Regions from separate parts of the Homo sapiens genome. Here region 1 is linked to region 2. The links come from fine-mapping of genetic effects on gene expression. Tissue or cell type: tibial nerve. Region 2 holds a variant in brackets; the other region holds the start of a gene. All regions are shown on one strand. Distances are between the middles of the regions.

Region 1 (2,768 bases), 410 kb before region 2:
TATTCTAAAGATATTAAGGTTTTTTGGTCTGTTGTTTTAGGAGAATATAAATAGAACAAAATATAGGCTTCAAAATATCCATTTTTGATTTATACTTACACTGTTGGACCCTTCTGAGATGATAAATATGCTAAACATTCTGAGGCATGGCTGTCCCGCCATGTAAAAATAAACTTTACAGCAGCAATGCTAACAGAAAGAATTGTCAAATTGCCAATAACATGTATAATGTAAGGGGTTAGAATGCAAGCTGAAGAGAGCAAGGTAAATTATAGCATTCTGTGAAAATAAGTGATGTAAAACCAACAGCAATTTTAAATTATTAACAATGGTTCCGAAGCTAATTCAACTTTTCCATTGGTGTAAGCCACAAACAGAATCACACAGCATGTTTCTCTTTAAACATCTTCAGGGGTCCTACGAGGTGGGTGAAAATGGGTAAGGGTGTCTGTTAAAGGCTCTAATGCAGCTAATGCCATCTAAATGGTATATTTACAAGCCTGTGGAGTATAACCTCATTTCTCCAAAACTGTCTAACCATTATCCTACTTGAGAAGTTAACCCATGATGAACAAAAGTACCTCTCTTCCACCCTTCTGCTCCCTATTTTCCCAAACCTTTCTATCTTGGTATTTTGTATGCTGAGCAAAACATTCCATAAATAATGCTGTGGTGCACAGGCATTAAAGTTTAGAGAGTTTCTGCCTTTGAAGTAGGTAGTGACAGGACCAAGGACACACGGGTTCAATTCCAAGCCAAATATGAGGCGGGTGGTTTGAAAATGTCAAACCAAAGAGGCCTAGGGGAAAAGAACACAAGCTTCCACTGCCACCTCCCTTCCTCTCCCCTCCCCTTTTTCTCTCTTGTTCCTTTCCTCTCTTCTCCTTTTTCGTTGTGGTTTCTCACGGAGACAATCAAAGCAGGGAAGGCTGGATTTTAAATTGGTGAGACACACACTGGAAATATGTAATTCCCAGAAGAAAAAAAGAAACTGCTGAAGAGGGGTATGGGGGCTGTTGGCAGCATGTCCAAGTGACAACCCTCCCCACCCCCACCCTAATATAGCACAAATCCACAGATTCTTCTTCGATCCTCTTCTCCCTCCAGTTCCCAGTACTCTACCCAACTTGACCCTTCATCCTAAAAATTTAGGAATCTGCAGGGCACCCGCTGTTTAAGAGTGTGTCTCTCAGTATATGCACCCAATTTTCTGGAACCCCTGAATCCGGACAGTTGTAGCAGGCAAGGGATGCTCCCACCCTCCCACCGGGGAAGAGGTAAGAAAGGGGGGAAGAAGAGATGGAGACAAGAGGAAAGGGATGCAGAGCTGTGCTCTAGGGCGAGTGGCTGCAAGGAAGACGGGGAAGAAAGAAAGGGTGGGAAGGAAGTGGGGCTGGGAGAGAGGAAGAAAGGGATGAAAGAAAGGCTGGAAGGGAGAAAGGAGGGGAGAGGAGAGAGGGATGTTGGGAAGGATGAGGGAGGGAGGGTTGGGGAGCGGGGAGGGGGGAGGATGGAGAGGATGGGAGGGAGGTGGGGAGGGAGGGAGGCAGGCAGGGATGGAGGATGCTCTGCCCGGGACTCACCTCTGTGGGTCGGTGGGAGTTTCTCGCCTCCTCCTCTTTCTCGCCCGTTCCCAGCAGCTGGAGTGGTAATCACAGAAGGGACTGGAGAGGCGGCGGCAGGGACAAGGGCAGCAGCTGCTGCAGCCGCCTCTGGCCGAGGTGCGGTGCCGCCTGCTCTGCCCGCCCGCCTGGGTCTCCGCCTCACTCGGGGCTGGAAGCGAAGCCGCTCCCCCCTCCCCCCGCCCGCCCCGCGTCCTGCCCAAGCGCGAGCGGCAGCGGCCCGGATCGCCGCTAGGGGAGGCAGCCAGTGCGCATGCGCGGCCGCTTGCTCGCTCGCGCGCCCCCGCGGTCCCCGTGGCTCCGCGGCGCCTGGAAAGGCACCGGGCATCGAGGGGTGGCTGGGTGGGGGGCCGCGGGCGCGCGCGGCCTGGGGAGCGCCCGAAAGGGCGGGGCGGGGTAGGGCGGAGCTCTGGAGGCGCGGCAGGCTCGGCGCCGCAGGTGGGGGGAGGGGACGGCGGCGAAGGGGCACCGCCGTAGGGCGCAGGTGCCGTGTCCATGACAACCGCGTTACCCTGCGGGCGGGGACCCGGAGCTGAATCGCCGGAGTCGCGAGGCCCGGGGAGAGGGACCGGGTGCGGGAGCGGGCAGGATAGGGGCGGGGGGGATAGGGGTGTCGCAGAGTAGGAAAGGAGGGCCAGCCCAGCAGGGGTCCGACACGTGGCAGGAGGAGGGCAGGGCCAGAGTGCTGCAAAGGTAGTGACTGCCGCGGAAGGGAGGTTTGTTGGGATGTGGAGTCCCGAGGGGAGAGGAAGGGAGATTTGGACTTTAAAAGAACCTAGAAGAGGATGGAATTGTTAAAACAACTGGAATATTTGCTCATTTAACAAGCCTTTGTTGAATATTTTCTCCGTGGAAGGCATTGTGATTCTTTTCTTGATTCAGTGGATATTACTTGGCTCCTAGTTTGTACCAGACACTGTACTTAGGCATTTTGAGATATCCAAAAATGTTCGTCCTCTGAGAGGTTATACTGTAGTTGGGGAACTTACATAGCTAGGGCAGGGAGTGTTTGCGCCGCCAGCCATCGGCAGCTGGGACTCGATGTTGCTGGAATGTAACTGTTACAGAGGTGCTAACAGTGAAAAAGGTACACAGCTACATCAGATGAGAAATATAAGTTACAGTCATCTTTGTTCTGCCACAGTG
Region 2 (2,768 bases):
AAAGGATCTCACTTGTGGCTACATCCACCATTCCAGAAGGTGCAGGATGTAAATCTTGGCAGTGCCCACTGGTTGCTAATTTTGTAGCCTTGCCTATTATAGATTTCAAAAGATGCCTCAGAGAGACTCGGGGCTCAAATAATTGACACAAGGACAGGGTCACCACAGAGTTTGTCCACTAGGGCAATTACTAGTAGAACTTTGGGGAGTGGGTTTTCTTCAAAACCCTAACTGTAGATCCAGCAGTGTGAGATGCCACCTGTAGAGGGCTGCATAAAAGAGACTCTAACCTCTGATAGCTACTTCCTGGGATGCATCCAGCAAAATCATGGGGGCCCAACCCTCACCCCAATATGTAGAGAAGGTTTGACTTGGAGCCAAAGACGATTATTCTCAAACCTCAAGATTTAATGTTATTTGCTTTGGTGGGAATTGGGCTTATTACAGACTTATTACAGACTTATTATTTATTTTTATTTTCCATTTCTCTCTTTTGGAATGAGGCTGTCCATCCTGTGCCTGTCCCATCACTATATTGTGGAAGTACATAACTTACTTGATTTCACAGCTGGAGAAACATGTGCCTCAGAATGAATCATACTTGACTTTCACACGTATCTGATTTTGATTATATTTAGATGATAATCTGGACCTTAGACTTTTAAGAGGATACTATAATGAGCTAAGACTTTTGGGGCTTTTGGGATGAAATGAAACATTTTGTACCTGAGAAATACATGATTTTTAGGCAGCTAGAATGCTGCAGTTTGAATGTTTGTCTTCTCCAAAGTTCATGTTGAAATTTAATTGCCATTGGAACAATGTTAAGAGGTGGGACTTTTATGTGGTGACCAGGCCATGAGGATTCTAAAGAACAATTCCTCCTTTCAGGAGCACACACACGCGTGCACACACACACACACACACACACACGGGTTTGTGGTGCTAGTGTGTGTGTAAAAGACAAATTAAATTGCAGGTTAAGAATTGGGTGATGTCTTACATTTATTCACTTTTTAAGCTCTTCTTGTGGAGCCTCTGTCCTTGACCATAATCAATGGGTGGTTATGTGTTGAAATCATTCAGAATCCAGATAGCTGGATGAGTTGCATGTGGAAATAAGTAGAGGAAAATCAGTATTTTGGGAACTCAGGGAATGGCCCTGGAGCTAAACTGCATGTCTGAATCTAGTGCCAACACATAGTAGCTGTTTGGTTTTTTAAAATTTTATTTTCGGTTCAGGGGTACATGTGCACGTTTGTTATACAGGCAAATTGTGTGTTGCAGGAGTTTGATGTATGGATTGTTTCATCACCCAGGTAATATGCATAGTATCTGATAGGTAGATTTTCAATCCTTACTTTCCTTCCACCTTCTATCTTCAAGTAGGCCCT[G/A]TGTCTGTTGTTCCTTTCTTTGTGTCCATATGTACTTGATGTTTGGCTCACACTTTTAAGTGAGATCATGCAATATTTGGTTTTCTATTCCTGTGTTAGCAGCTGTTTTAATCTTGCAGGAGTTACCTAGCCTTTCTCTTGCCTTCATTTTTTTTATGTGTCAAATATGGTTCGTAGCAGCACCTACATTATTAGGTTTTCATGGGGATTAAATGGTTTCTAATTAGGCAAGCATTTAGAATTGTGCCTGGCATAGACAGCATGTGACAAAAATTAATGTTTAAAAATCAGAGGTTTCTTGTGAAGCAGAATAGGCTAACTTATAAGTAGGTTTCCTTACACCTGCAGAACACAGCAGACCATGGAATGTCCTTGCTGCATTTGTTATTTGTTCAGCTCCTTTCTTTTCCAGTCTAAAGTTTGCAGACAGGCTATTATTTACATGCCTGCCAAGGATTTAAACAAGTGGGAGATTATCTCTCTCTCATATGTCTAAAATCTCAATTCCAAAGGTGGAAAGCAGAGAATACCTCTTGGAAAATGGCAAACAGCACCTAGAATCAGCCATAGCCTTGGAATTTTCTTGGCGTTATTGGAGGCTTATCAGAAAGTTTCCCCACTTAAGGACATATTAACACTAGATTTCCAGGAGACTGCTTTCCATATACAAGAAGACTGCTGGAGGGAATATGATGGGAAAGACCTGAAATGAGCTTCTTGGAATCTTGTAAAACTATGTCACAGGAAGGGCCTTGTTTTCTGGAGGACAATGAGATAAACCTTGAACAGATAGGAAATACAGTTTATATGCAAAAGGCATCACTTTGGAACAAAGTAGCTGCCAGGTAAAGGTATCAGTTTTATTAGCTTGCACGCGGAATTTGGCCAGTCACATGTGCAAGCAATAAAGTTAATAACATCTCAATGTGTTTCCAGATACTGGTAGCAATAAAGATTTTTATGGGAATACTGTGTCAATTGTTGATACAGTATTGAACTGAATCTCTCTCTGTTTTATATCATGCCAGTTACAGTGTATTTCATTATGTATTTTAAAGTATTAGATCTTTTATATCTGGAATGTTTTTGCTTGCTTTAAGTCTTCTTGAAGTAAATAAGAACTCTCATATTTAAAAAAATTATGCCACAAAGAATTTTTTTAATTTTAAACTATTAATTACTTGTTCATTTTTTTTGCAAGATACACTTATTATGGTACCAAGTATACTGGACTCCTACCTACTGTATCTTTTATGAAGTCTGAAGAATATGATTGACTTTCTTATTTATAAGAAAAAAGATATCTTAACCTGGCTATAAGCTTGTAAGATAGCATAAATATTTTTACTAAATGCAGAAATAAGTTGGATTAAC

The links. PIP is the estimated chance that this variant, and not a neighbour inherited with it, causes the effect.
Region 1: CTNNA2 starts here. The variant in region 2 is fine-mapped to the expression of CTNNA2 in tibial nerve (GTEx, PIP above 0.99).

Annotation. Positions count from the first base shown.
Region 1 is chr2:79,512,023-79,514,790 of GRCh38, reverse strand. CTNNA2 (catenin alpha 2) reads right to left here and starts at 1,740. Exons shown (of 19, transcript NM_001282597.3): 1 at 1,584-1,740.
Region 2 is chr2:79,102,923-79,105,690 of GRCh38, reverse strand. No RefSeq gene overlaps it. Among named protein-coding and RNA genes, the nearest start is that of REG1A, 16 kb to the left of the region's middle. The variant G/A (reference allele first, on the strand shown) is at 1,395.